3 separate regions of the Homo sapiens genome follow, and regions 1 and 3 are each reported to be linked to region 2. The links are microRNA targets in miRTarBase. Many come from high-throughput screens and were not tested one by one. Region 2 holds a microRNA gene; each other region holds the end of a gene's coding sequence.

Region 1 (4,246 bases), not on the chromosome of region 2:
ATAGGATTTTTTTCTTTTTTCTTTTCTTTTCTTTTTTTTTTTTTTTTTTTTTTTGAGATGGAGTTTCACGCTTGTCCATGCTGGAGTACAGTGGCGTGATCTCAGCTCACCACAACCTCTGCCTCCAGGTTCAAGCAATTCTCCTGCCTCAGCCTCCCGAGTATCTGGGATTACAGGCATGCGCTACCATGTCCAGCTAATTTTGTGTCTTTAGTAGAGACGGGTTTCTCCACTTTGGTCAGGCTGGTCTTGAACCCCAACCTCAGGTGATCAGCTTGCCTTGGCCTCCCAAAGTGCTGGGATTACAGGCATGAGCCACCACTCCCGGCTGATAACGATTTTTTTTTTAGAAAATGTCTAGATGTTCTTTTAGGGTAATGCTGTCATGTAATAGGATAATAACTGTTTCTTAAAGATGGTTCAAGCTCCCAAGTTGGTATTCTGCAGACATAACTGTTCTTTGCTGTTTAGAAATAGGGGAGTAACTCCAGAGTTCATTCCTTTGTATATGTATAGTGTTGTTCATTGTATAACCTTATTTATTTACCTGAATTGTCATTATGTGTGGTTTTACTGTGAGAGAATGTCTGGTTTAATGTATTTTAGGAAAGTGTTTTCTGTGGCTTATGTATATAATATATAGGAAGAGATTTGGATCAAGATAATGACCTTTAAAAATTTTTGTAATGAATATTTTATTTTTAGGTACCTGGCAAAGAATTCTGCAACTTTGTTCAGTGCCAGCGATTATGAAGTGGCTCCTCCTGAGTACCATCGGAAAGCTGTGTGAGAGGCACTCTCACTCACTTATGTTTGGATCTCCGTAAACACATTTTTGTTCTTAGTCTATCTCTTGTACAAACGATGTGCTTTGAAGATGTTAGTGTATAACAATTGATGTTTGTTTTCTGTTTGATTTTAAACAGAGAAAAAATAAAAGGGGGTAATAGCTCCTTTTTTCTTCTTTCTTTTTTTTTTTCATTTCAAAATTGCTGCCAGTGTTTTCAATGATGGACAACAGAGGGATATGCTGTAGAGTGTTTTATTGCCTAGTTGACAAAGCTGCTTTTGAATGCTGGTGGTTCTATTCCTTTGACACTACGCACTTTTATAATACATGTTAATGCTATATGACAAAATGCTCTGATTCCTAGTGCCAAAGGTTCAATTCAGTGTATATAACTGAACACACTCATCCATTTGTGCTTTTGTTTTTTTTTATGGTGCTTAAAGTAAAGAGCCCATCCTTTGCAAGTCATCCATGTTGTTACTTAGGCATTTTATCTTGGCTCAAATTGTTGAAGAATGGTGGCTTGTTTCATGGTTTTTGTATTTGTGTCTAATGCACGTTTTAACATGATAGACGCAATGCATTGTGTAGCTAGTTTTCTGGAAAAGTCAATCTTTTAGGAATTGTTTTTCAGATCTTCAATAAATTTTTTCTTTAAATTTCAAAGAACAATGTGCTTGTGTTGATGCCTTACAAAAACCATTGTATATTTGTGTATTCCTTCTTGTATTTAGACAGTGGTTTTTCAGGTGCGTGCTTTGTTTTCTGGTATGGCCTTTATGGAATGAGACGCTTTAGCTTTGGTACGTAGCGCTAATCCATAGCAGCTTTGGCAGTTTGCTGTCTTGAGTCTTAGCTAAAAAGTTAGAAGTTTACATGACTGTTTTTTTTATTTTCCCTAAATTATTACTTACTCTGAGCATTAATTAAGGGCATTTTCACCTGTGTAAAATTATGGTCAGCTTTTTTCTGTCTATAATTGTTTACTTTTGTGGGTTTACTCTAGAAACATGAGCCAAAAATGTCAATAGACAACACAGTATTAAAATAACCCAAAAGTTGTAAAGGGCAACGTTTCTCCCCTTTGATAGGGACACTAAAGTGGTCTGTACTTGGGTAGAGGATGGCAGACGTTAAGAATTAAAATGCGTCTGGGTGCAGTGGCTCACGCTTGTAATCCCAGCACTTTGGGAGGCTGAGGCGGGCGGATCACCTGAGGTCAGGAGTTCGACACCAGCCTGATGAACATGGAGAAACCCCATCTCTACTAAAAATACAAATATTAGCTGGGCGTTGTGGCGCACGCCTGTAATCCCAGCGACTCACGAGGCTGAGGCAGGAGAATTGCTTGAACTCAGGAGGCAGAGGTTGCAGTGAGCCAAGATTGTGCCATTGCACTCCAGCCTGGGCAACAAGAGTGAAACTCTGTCTCAAAAAAAAAAAAAAAAAAACCCTCAGAAAACAATTAAAATGCAAAGCAGCAGATAAGTTCAGATGGCGAGAGTTACAGCAGCAATACAAGAGGGATAATGAGTGCAGGAGGGAAATAGGAGTAAGTTCCAAAGAAGCAGGATTTGCTTGGGTTGTTTGAAGGGAACTGCTTCTACCCATAGTTGTCTTCCTGCCGCCTCCTTCATTCGGCTTACTTGTTCTCTTTTTCTTTACCCTTTTTGTCACAACTGTACTGATTTAGTTGGATTTCTAACAAATAGGGATTGTTGTTGCCTGGGGTCTTTCAGCTGTTGAAAGTTCTTGTTTATCTAGATGTGACTTAAAAAATGAAACACTTCAAGAATTTACGTGTCATTCTTGGCACAGGGGCCATGCTAATCTTGATTGTTTGAATTTTTAATATTTTTGCTAACAAAATGAGCCCTAGATGTGATTTTTTTTTTTAATGTGTACTCATGGTCCCTTGAACATTAGTGTTACTGGTTAGGTATTTAAAGATTTTCTTGCCGAGCGTGGTGGCTCACACCTGTAATCTGTAATCTCAGCACTTTGGGGCTGAGGTGGGAGGATTACTTGAGCCCAGGAGTTTGAAAGTAGCGTGGGTAACGTAGGGAAGAGACCTTGTCTCTACAAATAATTTTTTTTTTTTTTTTTGAGGCAGAGTCTCTCTCTGTCATCCAGGCTGGAGTGCAGTGGTGTGATCTCGGCTCACTGCAAGCTCCGCGTCCTGGGTTCATGCCATTCTCCAGACTCAGCCTCCCGAGTAGCTGGGACTACAGGCACCCGCCACCATGCCTGGCTAATTGTTTGTATTTTTAGTAGAGATGGGGTTTCGCCACGTTAGCTAGAATGGTCTCGATCTCCTGACCTCGTGATCTGCCTGCTTCGGCCTCCCAAAGTGCTGGGATTACAGGCATGAGCCACTGCACCCGGCTTCTACAAATAATTTTATGAGTAGCCTGGCATGGTGGCGTGTGCCCATGGTCCCAGCTACCTGAGAGGCTGAGGCAGGAGAATCACCTGACCCCAAGATATCAAGGCTGCAGTGAGCTGTGATTGTACCATTGTGTTCCAGCCTGGGTGACAGAGCGAGACCCTGTCTCCTAAAAAAAAGTTGAGGACTCGATCTTTTCGTTTATATTATCAATATTTACTGTGCTAGAAATTAAAACTTTAAAACTTAAAAATACGTGTCTTCATTAGTCATCAGAATGATACCGTCACACATCATGTAACCTCAGGAAAATTTCATGTACACTCGAGAAAAAGACTGATTTAAAATAGCTTTAACCTCATAGGCAGCATGAAAATATCTCAGGTACTGCAGAGATCTCTGGACCACTCGTTGAGAACTGCCGCTATAGATATTTGTGTCCTGAGGGTTGTAACAGTCTTAGGGTTCTGTATTCAGAAATTTAAACATTCCTTCACAAAACCTGAAAGTCAAGATTTTGTTCGTTATTCATTAAGCCTCCTCCCTCCATTTAAATATAGCATTAGAAAAGAACATTGATAGGTTTACCTGATGACACTAAAAGAGGCAGTAATCTTTGGACATTAAATCTACAGAGTATTTTGAATATGTTTTCATTTACTAGTAATTTTAATGTCGCTCCAGAATATCTTACATATTAGTAGTAAGTAGCTGGAATGATGTAATCAAAATCATACTGATTAATAATTACTTACCAAAACATGAAATTAGATGAATATTAATATTAGTACCGTTAGGTTTTAATACGGTTTTTTCTTTATTTTTTATTTTTTGAGACAGTCTTGCACTGTTGCCCATGCTGGAGTGCAGTGGCGCGATCTCGGCTCACTGCAACCTCCGCCTCCCAAGTTGAAGCAATTCTCCTGCCTCAGCCTCCCGAGTAGCTGGGACTACAGGTATGAGCCACCGCACCCAGCTAGTTTTTGTATTTTTTTAGTAGAGATGGGGTTTCTCCGTGGTCGTCAGGCTGGCCTCGAACTCCTGACCTCAACTGATCCACCTATCTCAGC
Region 2 (4,246 bases):
TATCAGTTCAGGAGTAGACAATGACAACTGCATTTTTACACAACCATAGTGTATGAGCGAAAGTCTATAGTACAACCCCATACACAATATATGAGCAGAAATTCCTTACGCGTGCTCAGTCTACCATGGAGAATGAGCCAATACTTACACATAAAAGAAAACAGACATGACACAAAGAAAATAGCCACATAGTTGAAATTGTACAGATGATCACAATATATAATCGAAAAGCCACAATACGGGAAAGAATTCCTTGGTTTAGGAGGAGATGGCAATGGTAGGAGACACCATGACATGCGCTCCAATGATCACATGGAAGAAAAACTACCACTGGTGTTTGAGAATTTAACCACAATACACACCAATATACACTGAAAGGTGAGCTATCAATTATGATACAGGTACAGGTGGAAATAGAATAGTAGTCAACTACTGTGCTATTCTTTCTCAGAAAGACACGATGAATAATGAAATACAACACAGCAATGAATGACTTTGCCAAAGGAGTAAAGGGTATATGTGCAAAAGGAAAAACCAAGGTATAACATCAGACGACCATGCTGAATGGACAGCCACCACCAGTAATTTAGCATGTGACTAAGGTACACAACCAGACATTCTCAGAATGCAAGCTAAAAGTCATGATAAAGAATAAAGAGACATAATACAAATAATATAACAATATCAGCAAATACTTATCATTTATATGTGTCAGGCACTAATCTAAGCATTCTACATGTGCATCTTTGAATCCTCACAACTCTATGAGGTATTATTATTTATTTTACAGTTTAGAAAACAGAAACAGAAGGGTGAAATGACTTCCTCAAGAATTTCAAACTATTAAATAGGAGAACTGGGATTTAAGTCCAAGCAGTGAGCATTGTGCACATACACTGATGGTGCCATGCTTCCTCATATGGATGTGATACAAGATTAGAAACACAGAGCACAGGAACAAATGGCTTTGGTCCAGAAGCAGACGGCAATGTAGCAAAAGTAGACACCGTAGCACATGCTCAAACATCCGTGGTGCATGAGCAGCCACCACAGGAGTCTGAGCATTTGACCACGATGCACACTCAGGTTCTGCAACAGAAGCTGACATCCAATATATAGGAGTAGATACTGAGGACGAAGAAGGAGGCAAACACACTGTATGACAAAAAATCATGGTGCACAAAATTATATTCATGGTACAGAAAATTCCATTTTTAGTACAATGTAGACAACGATGGTGCATTTTCACAAATCATGATGAATGAGCAGAAGACCATAGCTAAAGGGCATAAGCACATTCATACAACCATGGAAAATTAGCCAGGGCTCACTTAGAGCCAAGAGACATCTTATGAGAAAATAATCATAAGTGGAGACCTCATAGATGGATATAGTACAAGATCAAAACATCTCAATACATGAATGATTATTTCAAATGTAGGTGGCAAAGGTGCATAGAGGACCCACCGTGTAACATGTTCAGACAAAAGTTGATGAAAGCCATTAGTGATATTTGACTGTTTGATCTTGACTTACACAGGTACACAAAAGTAGTTTACACTATTACGTAGCATTTATGCCAAAGGAGCTAAGAGGCATAGATAGATACAGCACACAAACTTGTTTTCGGAGAATAAAACCATGCTGTGGTGCTTACTTAGACAGATATTGTGCCTTATACAAGAGCCACGGTACAGGGGTAAACAGCTTTGTCCATGAGTAGATGTCAGATATGTCAAAAGAGACCTGACACCATATACTCAGATGACCATTGCATGAACAGCCACCACTAGTATTTGGGCATTTGACTATGATGGCTACCTACACAATCCCACGACATAAAGTAAAAGAATGATACAGGAGCAGGTAGACATGAAACCATGATTACCAAAACGGATATGGTTGGTGATTAAAAATCATTATTTTCTTTAGTCTGGGAGAAGATGGCAATGATTAAACGGGTGAAGTTATGATATATGCTGAAACAGCCATGTTGCATGAACAGCCATCACATCATAGGCATTTAAGCATTTGACTGATGTACAATTAGAAAGCCCAGTGACATGAGATAACATCTGTCTTTTTGGAACAGATAAACAATGTGCAGAAAAAGGCAGAAGTGATCTAAGAGTAGAGAGTCATAGAATATGAGTAAATACTAAACTCATATACACGATGCATAAAACACTATTTCCCTGTAAAGCAGTAGACAATGAAGGTTCCTGCTCAGAAACCATGGGGTATGAGCAGACAAGCATGCTGCATGCTCAGACAACCATGGTGCATGAGCAAAAACCTACAATATAAAAGCAGGTGGGTGTGATACAAGAGTGAATAACACAATGAGGAATATGCCCAGATGGACAGGACATATGAATAAAGGAAACATAACACATGAATACAACTTATTTAGGCAAACAGCATATGACAATGATGCTGGAGGAGATATCATGGCACATACTCAGGCAATCATGGTGCATGAGCAACTAACACTAATATTTGACTGTTAAACCACGATGTACACCCAGATATCCCAACAAAAATAAGCTGATGACCATAATATAGGAGCAGATGAACAAGGATATTGAAGAAGATGCTGATAATAAAATAGCAGAAAACGATAGTGCAGTAGCTAATAGAATACTACAGATGGCAACGATTCAAATGACTGCCATGGCATATACTTATATAATGATGCTTTAAACACTATCACAAGTATCAGCATTTGACCATAATGCACACTTAGAGAACTCCAGAATTTGAGCTGACAATTATTATACACGATCAAGGGACACAGTATCATTATCATCATTGTCATGTCATCATCATCATCATCATTGTTATCATCATCATCACTACCTGCCAGGCAGTATTAAAAATATTTTATGTATAATAGCTTATACAATCCTCACAATAACCTTACTACTTTTTTTGTCATTTTGCAGGAAACTGAAGCATGAAGATACGAATTGATGTGTCCATTTCATGAACTGATGTGTCCAAGATCTCATAGCTAGTAAGTGGATAATCCAGGATTCAAATTCAGTCATTTTGGCTCCACTATCCATTATTGTAAATATGACAATAAATGACAATATGCTGTGATTCTTCTGACAGACATGATACCAGATTTTAAAACAGAGCAGAAAAATGAGTGGCTTTGTTCCAGAAGCAGATGGCAATGTTGCAAAAGTAGACACCATAGCACATGCTCAAACATCCGTGGTGCATAAGCAGCCACCACAGGAGTCTGAGCATTTGACCACGATGCACACACAGAAGATCTGCAACATGAGCTGATACCAGGTTATAGGGAGTAGACAGATGACAAAGGACAGAGAAAACTCATCACAATAGTGAAAGACATGGTGTAGAAATTAATATACATAGTACAAAATACTCATTCCCAGTACAAGTAGACAATGATTGTGTATTTTCACACAAGTGTGGTGTTTAAGTTTAAATACGTAGTACAACTTCAATCACAGTATATGAGCACAAATTCATTATGTATGTTTATATTATCATGGAGAATAGGTCAATTCATACATGAAAAAGGGGATAGATATGGTATCCCAGGAAAGAATCACAGAGTAAAAACTGCTCAGGTGATACAAAAAATACGGGTATGTATGGCATTTTGTCAAAAAGAAGATCAAAATAATACAGGATGTTCAGATGAATAAGATGCCAAAAAGCATGTTTTAATATGTGTTCATGAGGTCCAGTCAGACACCTACAGGACATAGGCTATCAATTATGACACAGGTGCAGATGGACATGATATGGAAATAAAACATGGTGTGATTCTTACTTGGGTAGATATGGTATGTAATCAAAAATAACCATGCAAGCAATTAATGACTTTGGCCCAAGAGAAGATGACAGTGGTACAAAAAAAAGACTCACATGGACATAATGACTCATAAAAAAAATAACCATGGTGATTGACTCTACACATTTGTGTTTGGGCATGATATAAATCCAAACGATCCCATTACACAAACTAACAGCTATGATACAGTTAGTAAGCATGATACAGGAACAGACAGCAAATATGGAGAAAATACCCATTCTGCAGGAGCCAGTGACCACAATTCAGGAACTAATATTCATGTTATTAAAGTTATCATTCTCCACACAGAAGGAGATTATGTTTATTTTTTACACATTAATGATGGGTGAGCAATATCTATGATGTATACACAGAGAATCAATTAGTATACACATAAAATACACAAGCAGT
Region 3 (4,227 bases), not on the chromosome of region 2:
TTTAGCATGAATATAGTGTCAGCACTGTTCACTGGTACTCCTGCAAGAAACAACTTTATCCACTAGAGTACAATGCTGTGTGCAGTTCTCTTTGCCTTTGTTCTTAGAGACGCCACTCATTTCCAAATTACTTATATTATTAATAGCACGTTTCCCCTACCGGCTTCAATGAGCTCCTGAAACTTCTGTGGTTTTTTCTTTTTAAATAAGTGGATGGCCCTTTTCCAGGAAGGCAGCCTCAAGGAAAAGCCACCTCCAGGTGTAACCAGAAGCACTGAGTATTTCTCAGGGGGAAGGACAGCCTTACATTTTATTGGCTGAGCTGAACTTATGCTGTATGAATACAAATAGCTCATAGATGTTTGTAGCTTGGTGCCTTCCTGAGTCTGCAGAGTGAGGCTCTTGCTGTACCACGTGTGGGAGGTGAGGATGCTGTTCCCTCGTTGCCTTCAAGACATCTGCTTGGGTTTGGTCTGTCACTTTAAGATCAGCTCAGTGTTACCCTTCCCTTCCTTGTCTAGCATGTCATGGAATTTACTTTCCAAATCATTCTCCTCCCTTCCCTGCACTGTGCATTTTAAATCACAGTCCTCAACCTCAACACATTTAGAACTCCCAGGTTGCAGCGATTCTCTACCTCCTTCCTCTTAGGTCCTGGACACGTACGAGTGCATACATACCTGCGGCTTTGGGCACGTTCACGTGTAGTGACTGATTTCATTCTCCTGATGTCACTCTGATGCACAGGTACTTTCATTCATTTTACCGGAGGCCCAGCCCACTGAAGCAACCCATCCAGGCCGTCCTTGCCAACGTGCTCTTCTTGGGTGGTTTAAAGGCTGATGTGCTCTCCAGGGCTTGTGAGTCTTCCTGGGCGCCCCTACCCAGTCAGGATGGCTGCAGACGCATCTTCATGCGCATTCCAGCAGCGTCTCTGCCAGGGGTGCTGAAAGTCACTGTCTGAAGCAGCTGGGAGATGGAAGTGATTCTGACTTTGGGGCACCCACCCTCTGGAAAATGTGGCACATCATTAGAGGGTGGTTCAAGCACACTCAGCTCTCAGGGAGCAGTTATTCCTGGCACCAAGAAACTAGCCTGGAAAAAATCTGTCTTTTGCAACATGCAGGATCCATGAAGGACAGAGCTCTGATTTTCAAGGTGCAGGATGTTCAGCGGTTCGATTCCAGATGAGGCATCTCCACTCACTATACTTCAGCGGGATCGTGGGCTCCCTGGCACAGATGTCAGGGTTATGAATTGTGATTGGTTTATATTTTATGATCCACATTTTGGAAACCAATTATTTGTTGAGGATCTTTGTCTTCTCATTTATTTTAGGTCTAGGGTGAAACATTTCTTTTATGTTTAACACTGGGCACTGACGCTGAGGTGTGATCCACACACAAGGTATCAAGCCTACCTCAAGTCGAGCAGGGGTCTTCAGGACTGCAGCACACTTTGCGGTTGCCTCCTTGGCAGTAGGGGTGGAGTCTAGAATGAATTGTTGCTTCCCAGCTTCTAGAGTTGCTGTGGTTGCGAGCTCTGGTCTCTTGATCCCCGTCTCACACGCTCTGGGCCCACTGTTTTGCTACAGCTATTGCTGTGGTGACTGGCCATGAGCAGGTGTGGCCTGACACACCGTGTCTCAGCTCTGCCTGGTTCTCTACCACCTCCACCTGGCATCTGGCAGGAGCCCACTCAGCCATGCTGGTGTGTGGTGCACCTGGGAGTGTGAGGGAATTAGCACCCTCAGGCAACCCCTGACCAGTCGAGACCGCAGCTGATGGAGAACACTTCCCTTTCCAAGCCATGGCTGGACCATCTGAGGATCCTTCCTTGGTGGATCCCCAGCAGGATCAAGCCTAAACAGCCCACAGTGGTAACCCCCTTAGTCCCATGTCCTTGAGTTGGCTTTTCTTCTTCCTGGTATCACCCCCTCCAGGTCCCACTCAGGCTTCCTGATATCGCCTTCCCATATAGCCGTGCTGTGTAGAGGTCGTGGCCTCAGCCAGCTTCTGGGGGAACACGCGCCAGGGCGGCTGCGTATCTATTTCAAATAACATTATAAGGTAGGATACTTATTTCATAATGTGAACCTTTTTCTTAGGAAAACTTCAATTTGAGATTGCATTTCAGAGGGTCAAAATAAACTGTGAGTTGAATCTCGGAGATTGTTTCTTTGAAATACTGAGCTTTGACTTGGGAAGTTATGTGGGATCTTTTTTTTTTTGTAGACATGGATCTCACTATATCGTCCAGGCTGGTCTCAAACTCCTAGGCTCAAGTGATCCTCCCACCTCAGCCTCCCAAAGTGTTGGGATTACAGATGTGAGACACTGCACCCAGCCTATGTTGGAACAAATTGAATGACTTACATTTGTGAAGTACCCTTTCTCCAAATTCCCACAAGTGCTGGTTCAGGTGTTTTCTTTTCTTTTTTTTTTTTTTTTTTTTAGATGGAGTTTCACTTTTGTTGCCCAGGCTGGAGTGCAGTGGCACGATCTCAGCTCACCGCAACCTCTGCCTCCCGGGTTCAAGTGATTCTCCTGCCTCAGCCTCCCGAGTAGCTGAGATTACAATCACCGGAAAATTTTTATGTTTTTAGTAGAGACGGGGTTTCACCATGTTGGCCAGGCTGGTCTCGAACTCCTGACCTCAGGTGATCCAGCTGCCTCGGCCTCCCAAAGTGTTGGGATTACAGGCGTGAGCCAGCACGCATGGCCTGGTTGGGGTGTTTTCTGTAAGCATTAGTGAGTTATAAACAAACACATTCCCCGAGAAATGGCTGTAATACCACGAATGGGTTCAACTCTACTGAGATGGATTAAAAACAGCAGCGTGGGCGGACGCTGTGCCTCGCATCCATCTGAGCAGACGTTTTGCTCTATGGACACGAGATTAAGGCGGTCAACAACTCGGGGTTTAAAAATATTCAGAACCAAGTTTTATTTTGTAGTCGTTACACAGGAGGGGGCAGTCAGAAGAGTACAGCTCACCCCCAGCAGTGGAGGGGTTAAATCTCAGGGACAACGTGGGGCAGTGGGGACAGCACCTCCGACCCTATGGGGTGTACCTTCAAGTAGCAAGGCTGACAATGATGTCTAGAAAGGTCTCCACTTCTGCCTGAGTTTTGCCAAACCCAGTGGTCTATAGGGATGTGGCAAAAGAATGACCTACCGCAGTGTGATTATCAGTGTTTTTTAAAATAAAGAGCACGGTTTTGCCTTTAAAATAATTCACATCAACGGTATTTGGGAGAACATGGAGCTGGCATAACATTGGCGTAGAAAGCAGGGCCAGGCCCACCCACGGGGCCCTCGTGTGGGGACGGGTGCCTGAGGCCCTGAGCCCCTCGAGCCTCTGGCCACGGCTGGCTGCCTGTGTGCTGTTGTCTCGTCTGTCCCACCCCGAGAAGGGAGTTGAACAATGTGAGTTGTCTGTGGCATTGGAAAGTGCAGTGGTTACATGGGTGTGTGCGAAGTGGTTAGCTGTGCCTTCAGGCGGTGCGTCTAGCAGGGCTGATGGGGGCCAGGGCTGCTCCTGGCTTTCTGTGGGCAGGGCTTGCCCTCCAGGGACCCCGAGTGCTTGCACCCGCTCGGTGACAGTGGCTGGCAGGTCTAAGTGCTGCTGCTGGATGCAAATTCCTTTGGTAGACTTTTTTTTTTTTAAGAAAAAAATAAAACCAATTTTTGGGTTGGCACCTGAGGTAATAAGTTAAGAATAAGCACCAAAATGGCCCTTCCTGGCACGCGCCGGCTCACAGGTTCTTCATGCACACCTGGCAGCGGCTGATGTGTGTGCGGATGAGGCCGGCCTTGAGCGTGTCGGCGGAGGGCGAGCCCTGGAAGCTCTGCTCGGGAATGGTGGTCAGCCAGAAGCTGTACTTGTTGGCGTAGTAGTGGCAGGTGCCGCGGCCTCCATTGCATTCGATGAATGGTGTGGCGCGGAAGTCCTCTAGACAGCTGCCCGGTGACACCAGTGATTGGCCACCGCCTTCGTCTCCCGCCGCCGTGTGCTGCACAGAGAGGGGGGCAGGACAGGGTTAGGAATCACAGCCTGCAGGTGGCACGGGGTCAGGGCATAGCCCTCTTCTGTGCATTTGTTTTTACTGAACAGCAAACCATGAGTGTCAATACGGACATGAGGCATCCTCGCGAATGCGCCTTCAGCAAGAGGGGGCTGGTGAAATACACATGGGCCCCCTGCAGGAGGCAGCCCCAGGCACCA

Evidence for each region. The annotated mature microRNA hsa-miR-767-5p reads UGCACCAUGGUUGUCUGAGCAUG and lies in region 2 at 2,263-2,285, opposite strand. An mRNA with a match to its seed (bases 2 to 7 or 8) in the 3' UTR can be bound and repressed. Matches are read on the target gene's strand: a 7mer-m8 pairs with bases 2 to 8, a 7mer-A1 pairs with bases 2 to 7 and ends in A, and an 8mer does both.
Region 1: the mRNA of MORF4L1 is a reported target of hsa-miR-767-5p. Seed matches in the 3' UTR shown: 7mer-m8 at 1,221-1,227.
Region 3: miRTarBase lists COL4A2 as a target of hsa-miR-767-5p. The part of its 3' UTR that is shown has no 7-base or 8-base seed match.

The regions. Positions count from the first base shown.
Region 1 is chr15:78,896,278-78,900,523 of GRCh38, forward strand. MORF4L1 (mortality factor 4 like 1) reads left to right here. Exons shown (of 12, transcript NM_006791.4): 12 at 706-1,862. The coding sequence ends at 790. It also overlaps the pseudogene RNU6-415P. Among named protein-coding and RNA genes, the nearest start is that of MORF4L1, 26 kb to the left of the region's middle.
Region 2 is chrX:152,391,219-152,395,464 of GRCh38, forward strand. MIR767 (microRNA 767) reads right to left here and starts at 2,311; the gene lies at 2,203-2,311. The region is part of intron 1 of GABRA3 (gamma-aminobutyric acid type A receptor subunit alpha3); the gene reads right to left. It overlaps MIR105-1 (microRNA 105-1), which reads right to left and starts at 1,081; the gene lies at 1,001-1,081. It overlaps MIR105-2 (microRNA 105-2), which reads right to left and starts at 3,274; the gene lies at 3,194-3,274.
Region 3 is chr13:110,511,722-110,515,948 of GRCh38, reverse strand. It overlaps COL4A2 (collagen type IV alpha 2 chain), which reads right to left. Exons shown (of 48, transcript NM_001846.4): 48 at 2,740-4,015. The coding sequence ends at 3,758. Among named protein-coding and RNA genes, the nearest start is that of COL4A2-AS1, 5.7 kb to the right of the region's middle. RefSeq lists enhancers at 1,180-1,679, 3,405-4,033.